2 separate regions of the Homo sapiens genome follow, and region 2 is linked to region 1. Evidence: fine-mapped expression QTL. A gene starts in region 1. The other region holds a variant in brackets. All regions are shown on one strand. Distances are between the middles of the regions.

Region 1 (4,387 bases):
TTAAAAAAATCTAGAAAATGATCAAATCTAAAATCTAAGCTAATTTCTATTTGAACTAAGAAAAATTGTTTTCCTTAAAAAAAAAAAAAAACGCAGATAGGGTCAAAACCCAAGATGAGGCTGTCTTGGAAGCAGAGACAGCACACAGGAAGCCCCATCAGACACAAAGGAAGCCTATGAGACCAAACGTGGGGGCAGAAGACAGAAGAGCCGACAGCTCATTTGTTTCCCTGGGAGTTCCACTAACGAGTGGCAAGGATGGAGTGCTTGCCTCCCAGTGGGCTGCTGGGTGGAGAGGAAAGCCGAATAAAGCAAAGCCTCTCAAAGCAGGCAAAGCATGGTAAAGGCTGTAGTGGAAGTGCCAAGGGTCAAGTTAACTCATGAGAAAAGCTTCATAAAGGTGGCAATCCAGCTGGGCCCAAGCCAAAAGCGTAAGTAATCAGAATTAGAAACGGTGGAGGAGTCAACCCCTACTGAGACAGTTCGGGTTCTCAGCCTGAAGGAAAATGTGGAAGTTGGAGGTTGTGGAGTTTGTGGCTTAAGCCACAGCCCCCTCCTACACCTGGCCTTAGCTCCCAGGATACCTGCCCCCCACTGGGCCAGGCCACGGACTTCCCAAAGGGCAACCACATAAAGCACAGGACCTTCCACCACTCACACTTTCCAGACCTATCCCTGGCCACTATTTCTTCCCTCTGATGTCACAGGGCTCTGCATCTTGTCCCACCTCAGCAAAATTAGACCCCCTGGTTTCCCAAGAGATGTCATTTTTAACTCTTTTCTACAGGCGCCTGGAGCACAGGGCTTCCCAGAAGTCTGATTCAATGCTATTTTGAGCTGGGTTAGATTGGCAGAAATGAACCACCCACCCTTGGAAAAGTCACACTTGGGAAAAGACTGCCCCAGCAGAGGTGGACTGGGAGCTCTTTCTCAGCATGAGTTTGAATGGGGGTCATATGGAGCAAGGAGACGCTCACATAGTTTCTGCAAAGCTGTGCTGACAAATAGCTCTGGACAGATCCAGACCGGTTCTGTTCACCCAGCTGTTATGCCGCTTCTGCCTGCAAGATGAGAAAGACACCTCCCCTTCCCAGGTTGGCATCATTTATTGAACCATGGCTTTGGAAAGAACAACAAGTTCAAATCCCGGAAAGAAGCTGAGCGTGAATTCCAGCCGGAGGCCCACCAATGACAGCCCTGTCTTGCTATCCTGGGGGGCATGGCATGGGTGGGCGGGGTGCGATGGGGTGGAGGGAAGGAAATCCAAGCACCTGTGGATGCTTACTGCCTTACTCTGTCCTCCTGGCTCCACGTCACCCTTCCTTCCTGCCTGACGTGATCAGGGAAATCTGCGGGGTTAAAGAAGCTTCTAGAAGCCACTTAGTCCCCCTGCAGGTAGATGCTTTTTTTAAGGGTCTCTTGCTCACTTTGAGCATTCTAGAACCACAGATGCAGCCTCTCAGAGTGGTTACCCAGCACCAACTCAGGGGCAGACCATAGTGCCCAGCCTTGTTACAGCGAGGAAGGTGACTCTCAATGGACTGGGGCTCTTGAATTCCTTTACCCTCAGACATACATCCTTCCAACCCCATCATCCCACGATGGTGACAGGGTCTGTGGTCAAGGGAGGGGGTCAGGTTAGGTCAGTGCAGTTCTTCAAGTCGGACCCCAAGCAGGCAGCACCAGTCCCCAAGAGTAGGGCTCGGCCAGAGCTGCTCCCATCAAAGGGAACTGGGTGGGGCCCTGTTATCCAGACACAAATATCTGCTGGGCCCCTGGGACCCAGGGTGTCCAAAGGTGGTTCTTTTCCTCCCTCAGAAACTTGGCCCAGGGCCTTTCCCAGCAAGTGCCTCCCCCTCCTCCCGCCCTCGGGTTCCCTTCCCAGCCACCCACTCAGTGAGGGCTTCAGCACGTGGCTGTGTGGGGCGGCGGGTTTCCTCTCCGCCCCGGCAGCTCTGCAGAGGGTGGTTTTCGCCCTCTCTTCTCCCCCATCCCCCGTGACTTCTTGTAAAAGGCTCCGGCGTCCCCACCCACCTCCGCCCTCCCGCGGCTGCCAGACCGGTGCCCGCCCCCGCCTCCCCCGGAGGCCGCGCTCTCTCCCCGCCCCTGGCAGCGGGCTCTGCTTCGGAAACTGTTGACTCAGAGGGTGGCCGGGCGGCCAGCGTCTGATGTCAGCCTGGAGCTGGGCCAGGGAGTGCAGGGCGGGCGGCGCTGGGAGCGAGGGAGGAAGGGTGCGGGGCCGGGCCGGGCTGGGTGGGCGCCCGCGGCAGGCGTAGGGGCTGCGCTCGGCGCTCCCGGCTGCGCGCTCGGCCTCGGCGGCGGCCCGGGCGCCCGTGACTCAGGGTGCGTCACCGGAGCAGATGCCCGGGGCGGTTGGAGGCTCCCGGGCTCCCGCTGACTCATCAGAAAGGCCTGCCGCGCGGCCCGGGGGGCGGGGGAACGTGGGGGACCGCGGGGAGCTGCCGGGCAGGCGGCAGCCGAGGTCGTTTGAGGCGCGCAGAGCCGGAAAACCCCACGGAGACGGCTGGGCGGGGGCGGGGCGATCGGCACTGACCAGGTCACCTGCAGCGCGGGCTGACGGCGGGCGACTGAAGGAGGGAGCAAGTCTCCCACCCCCAGCAGCCGGCGGCCGCTTCCGAAGTCTGCCCCCTTCCACTGCGGAGCGGCGCCCCGCGGGCCCCCAGCCAGCGCGCCCGAGGCGCCCCCGCCCCGTGTCGCTCGCGCTGCGTTATTGGGAGAAGGCGGTTCCTGAGCACCAGCACGGGCCTCGGTGACACCGGAGGTCGCTGGGGTCTTCCCCTTCCCCTTAAGACTCTGGGTCTGTCTGTGGGAAGAGCTTTCATTCCCCACCCCACTCTATGCCGACCCTCTCCGGGGGAGGCTCCACTGGCACTGTAGACACCACGTGCTGGGTAAAAAGGCCTGGTCCCAGCGCTTCCCTGTCACTGACTGCTAACCACAAGGCGCCGTGGCACTCAGGAAATGCGGCAGGGGGGCTGGAGAACTATCAGGAAGGGGTGTGGGCAGAGAAGAGGCTTCCACCCTGTCTTGGAACACGGACACAGTCCATGGCATTCAAAAGAGGTGGGAGGCTCCTCTGTGCACGTGCCTTCCGCCCCCGGGACAGGTGGAGGAGGGGATTTGACTGGTCCTCACCCTCTGCATTTATAGTCTGGGCACACCTTGGGCAGTGCCGCAGGAGGGCGCTGTGGAGTACAGGCACATGCAGAAGGTGTGGCGAGGGCTTCCTGGTGGAGCTGGCAGTAGGGCAGGGACCTTGAAAAGGAATGATTTGAACAGATCGGAAAAGACATTCCAGACAGAAACAAATGCCTGAAACCCAAACCGAGAAGCAGGAAAGAGCAGACTGCGTTCTCGGAATGGCAGGGAGTCCAGTTTGACTGGAAGACCTGAGGCTCAGAGGCGCATCACGGCCCAGATGCAGACCACAGAGGCAGGCACAGTGGCCCAGGAGGACCGAGGACCTGGAGTCACGGGGTTCCGCCCGCTGCCCCTGGGGAACCGAGTCATGCCAGTTCCCAGACAGATGAATTCCTTCCAAGAATTCCACAGTCCTGCTCAATCCTAGCCGCCAAGCCTCCTGGCCTTGGATGGCTGCTGTCTAATGCAGATCCTCTTTCATCCAGATTTCAAATATTTTTCCTATTCTGTCCTTTGATCACTAACGTTTATGTTTATCTACATCAGCATCCCTCAATCCTGACGGCACTCTGAAATTATCTAGGGGTGCTTTAAAAAAGAAAAATGTTGATGCATGGCCCTCCTCCAGGAAATCTGATTTTATTGGTCTGGGGTGGGGCCCAGGCATCAGCAGACTTTTAATGAGCAGTTAGAGAGGAGAACCACTGATGGAGATGGTCACCAGGGAGTGTCCAGGTCAGACCGCCACAGAAGAGTGCAGCCTCCTGGCCTTCAGACCCAACTGGGACAAACCCTGAGAACAGCCTTGGCAGACCTCCAGGGGCAGCTGGACTCCCTGAGGCTGGATGTTGCAGCCTCTCCCAGGCATCCACTCTGCAGCTGAGGCCAAAGTTTCCAACGGGAAGGGAGGGTGAGGCTTCTATTTGTTTCCCAAGAGCCAGCTGACCTTTGAAGCTAGTGATAACCACCACAAACCTCACTGGTGGGAGAACGAGGCACTGCAGCCAGTTCTCATCAACCCCACATCCCTGCAGGGGGCCCCAAGGCGGATGTGTCACCATCCTCTGCAACGCTGGGCCTCAGAGGTGGAGGAGGCCCAGCCATGGCCAGATGGGGGATCTGGGGAACAGGTCCTCTGCTTTCTGGGAAAATAGAGGTGATGATTCCTGGCCCCAAAGGTTCTTGTTGGGAGTCTTGAGATAAATCCCCTAGCAGTGCTCAGCAT
Region 2 (4,387 bases), 20 kb after region 1:
CTTTTCTTTTTTTGAGATGGAGTCTTGCTCTGTCACCCAGGCTGGAGTGCGGTGGTGCAATCTCCACTCACTGCAACTTCTGCCTCTCAGGTTCAAGCAATTCTCCTGCCTCAGCCTCGAGTAGCTGGCACAGGTGTGCGCCACCATGCCTGGCTAATTTTTGTATTTTTAGTAGAGATGGCATTTCACCATGTTGGCCAGGCTGGTCTCAAACTCCTGACTTCAGGTGATCTGCCTGCCTCAGCCTCCTGAATTGTTGGGATTACAGGCGTGAGCCACTGTGCCTGGCCTGTGCTTTAATACTATAAGGTTACATTAAAATTAAATCAACTAAAAGGCAGCAATACAAAACCTTCTCTGATGCCCAACCAAAAGTCCAACTTACAAGGACAAAAGAGAATGGTCAAGTACATGCTAAAGAGATCTTAATACCAAGCTATCAACCACTGGCAGTATCTGCCATTTGCATCCATGTGCCAGGCACTTTCAAGGCCTGGTAAGGTTAAGTTCTAGTGTCTTCATCCTACAGACAAGAAACCAAGGCCCAGAGCAACTTGTCCAAATCAGTATAATCAATCTAATAGGTAATAAGGGTCGTTTATTGAGCCCTGTGTGCCAGCCAGTTCTAAGCACCTTGTAACTGTTACATCCTTATAACCTTATGAAGCTGCTACTTTTACTACCATCATTTTCTTTCTTTTCTTATTAGAGATAGGGTCTTACTTTGTTGCCCAGGCTGGAGTGCAGTGGTGTGATCGCGGCTCACTGCAGCCTCCACCTCTTGGGCCCAAGCAATCCTCCCACCTTGGCCTTTTGAGTAGCTGGGACTACCAGCTAATTTTGAATTTTTTTGGAGAGACACAGGTCTCCCTACATTGCCCAGGCTAGTCTTGAACTCCTGAGCTCAAGCAATCCTCTCACCTCAACCTTCCAAAGTGCTGGCATTTACGAGCATAAACCACTGTGCCTGGCCTTACCACGATTTTCCATCTGGGAAAACCGAAGCACAAAAGGGTTAGGTGACTAGCCTATGTTCATACAGACAGTAAATGGCAGAGGCAGGATTTGAGTCAAGCAGACTGGAGGCAAGGTCTACACCTTTAACCACCACCCTATACTAGTGCATTGCCTGAATAATTAAGTAAATCTTTGAATTTAAAGTTACTCCCCAAAATATTAAGTCACCCAGTTAACTAAAGTGTTCAAAGAACAAAGAGATGATGCTTTTCATTTCAGCAGAGTTCAGAAGACTTCTTAAGGCCAAGACAGGTTAGGAAACTAAAATATATACTCTAAAAAGAAGAAAAAAGGAATTAAGCAATGTGTGGCTTCTCTAACCCAGTATTTCCATTTAATGGTATTAATGCCCATATTTACTTGGAATAAATCTAGCTTAATTTGTCAATCTATTCATTTAGTCCGGGTTTTAAATTGTTAGGAGGCTAGTGAACTGAAGTGTCTAGAAAAGGCTGTCCTGGAAACAGTGCTCACATATATACTGGACTTTACCAAAATTTCACTGTTCTATATATAACTTCCAGCATTTTTTAGCAGAATCAATTTTCTTTCTAATAAAGCAAGATTGTTAATACACATAAAGCTGATATGTAAAATTTTACCTCTATTTCAGATAGAAGCCAAAGTAAAACATGAGGAATAAAAACATTTATCTATGTATTCAGAATCACACACAAGTTACCTTTACAGTTCAATTTACTATATAGAAATCATTGGGTTTTATATTTGCAGTTAACTTTTGAACTGAGATTACAATATTATAACAAAAAACTTTACATTAATTCAGAACTTTTTAGCATACCAAATTGAAATACATAGGTTCAAATTTCAGATTTATGGCAAACAGTCTTCAAATACAATACAGACATTTCTTAAAAGTTACCGTATCATTCACATGTGATATTTGCAACTCTGAGCTATTTCTTATAGAACAGCTCTCCTGCAGATATGGCAAAGTTGATATGCCATGAAGTTCAAGGCCTGTATAGTCAAGCCAAGGACTCAAAGTTGCACCATCTTTAAAAAGGTTTGGCATTTCTGGACCACAACAATGCACAACATGTAAAGAAGGTAGGAAACAGTTCCCCCTCCTTGTTAAATGGTTAAAAAAAGTTACATGGTAGCTTGGAATTTTGCATAAAACCCCATAATATACCTTGGAAAAGTCCAAGGGCAATTTGATGGCAATGGATTGGGGCCCTATATATATAT[A/T]TTTTTAATAGAACCCATGAGATTTAAATGGGCATTAATCAAATCAAAAAATATTAAGCACCTACTGGTTTAAGAGATTTAAATTTATTAGAGATTCATGATCAATTTCTTTCCACCTCGAAATCAAGGTGTAAAAACCAGCTATTAAGTGCATTCCAAACTTCTCCTATGTAGCACAGGTAGAATTTTCTGTCCATTGGCACCAAAGTGAAGTCACATTTCCTCTTGGGAGACAGAAATTCCACACCTGAACACAGAGTAAGTTAGGAAAAAATGACCCCTGTTGTTTATTACTATTGTGATTCTGAGATCTAGGATTTCTAATATACTAGCAGTAAACAAAGCAAATTCCTGGCAACAACTGTCAGGTTAGTGATGCTAACTCCCTTCCCCCAACCACCATAAAATTTTAGTAAGAAAAGAATTAAAAGTAATGACTAAGCAGAACAAATTGGAAATAACAAGAAACTAAGGGGACAGTTCAAACCAACAACAAAAAATCCTAAATTTGAAATCACTGCAACTGAAGATAATAAGTGTGCTTCACCCCAACCCCCATCCCAACTCTGAATTTAAACATTCCGTGCAAAAGAGCAACAGGTTTCTGGATAAAGATGTAGCCCTTCTTTAAGTTTTAGTGCTCTGCAGTTTTCTGCAATTTTATTTCCCTCCCCCCAAGTTTATTCAAAGTATTTAACAGAATCTTCCATTTCAGCCAAAAGATTGTGATTCAAAGATTTACTAAGGTACTCTATGCATTCTATCTATACAGAAACACCTATTTATTATTACAGTTGATTTATGCAGGATTAACATTTTTGGTGTTAAAATTGTTAAACATCATGCTTACTGCACATCAACTCTCCATAATGAATCTGAACTTCACAATGATTTACCAAACACTTTACTTAAATTACTAATTAAATAAATGAAAAATGCACCGAGCCAAACAAAACTTAACTGGGCTATAAAGAAAAAAACCCTTCAAAACAGTCCATATACACATCTATTTCAAAACTACCTTTGCTAGCTAGCCCCTTTCCCAAAGTTTTAGCCTGAAAAAACAGTAAAATCTACACAAAATTTTATTGCAATCATACAAGGGTTACATTAGGTCAACAAATACTATGATGCAATTTTACATTTATTAAACTACAGTTCAAAGCACAAATTTACACATTCTAAATACACTAAACGTTATCTAATGAAGTCACACTGGTCTTCTAACATTTGATATATCTGGGTGAAAGACATGAACTTTACAAGACTTTAAACACAAATCCTTAGTATAAAAACTGTGTTCTTGTATGTAAACGATTTAATGGGGAACCCAATTAATGGGCTTCCATCTCCACTAAGTCATCCATTTTGTTGCATATTTTATTTTAAACGCTTAAGGGGTAGGACAAACTGGTAGGTTTAAATCTGGATACATTATCTAAATCTCCCATTATCCCCAATGAATTATAGATGAAAGCTGATTTTGTCTGGTCCCAAATAGCTATTACTAATAGTTTTTGTTGCCAAAAGAATTAAGAGAATAAGATTGTTTAAATTATTTTTCCACACTGGAATGTTGACCAGACAAGCTTAACCTGCAACTTCAGATCTAAAGAAGCGTTAATGCCTGTTTAAGCTTCAGCGGAAAAGCTGTCTTCTTGGCTCAGCTGAATGCAAGAAGGCACAAAGAAGAAGTTCTTCATCATTGAGTCTGAAGTAATTCCAGCATCTTGCATCTCATACCTACGTAGAAAAAAAATCAGCTAAATTCTCAGTTTAAGCCCAAAGACCACGTAATCACATAACAAATGGATAATAAAACAGGATTATAACTAGTCTTCCAAAAACCTTTAAAAGATCATCATTTTTCTATGATAGTCATGCACTGCAGAGTGATGTTTTGGTCAAAGACTACACATATGACTGTGGTATACCGTAAAATTACAGTGAAGTTTAAAAAGTCCTATCACCTCGTTACATCGCAGCAATCATGTCATAGCACAATGTATTATCCTTTCTATGTTTAAGTAACTTAAGATACACAAACGCCACTGCATTACAACTGCCAACAGTATTAAACAGAGTAACATGCTGTACAGGTTTGTAGCCTAGGATCAATATACCACATGGCCTAGATTATGTAGTAGGTTATGCCATC

Alleles and levels. Positions count from the first base shown, and alleles are read on the strand shown. Sizes are in standard deviations (SD) of each study's normalised expression.
For the expression in lung of the gene that starts at base 2,549 in region 1, allele T in region 2 goes with a lower level than allele A (small effect, 0.33 SD a copy in GTEx).

Evidence for each region. PIP is the estimated chance that this variant, and not a neighbour inherited with it, causes the effect.
Region 2: its variant is the best candidate, but not a certain one, in a credible set for the expression of GASAL1 in lung (GTEx, PIP 0.82).

Annotation. Positions count from the first base shown.
Region 1 is chr8:102,804,482-102,808,868 of GRCh38, forward strand. It overlaps GASAL1 (growth arrest associated lncRNA 1), which reads left to right and starts at 2,549. Exons shown (of 2, transcript NR_149020.2): 1 at 2,549-4,072. RefSeq lists a silencer at 1,976-2,775 and an enhancer at 3,761-4,387.
Region 2 is chr8:102,824,707-102,829,093 of GRCh38, forward strand. AZIN1 (antizyme inhibitor 1) reads right to left here. Exons shown (of 12, transcript NM_148174.4): 12 at 1,602-3,972. The coding sequence ends at 3,861. Among named protein-coding and RNA genes, the nearest start is that of GASAL1, 20 kb to the left of the region's middle. The variant A/T (reference allele first, on the strand shown) is at 2,230.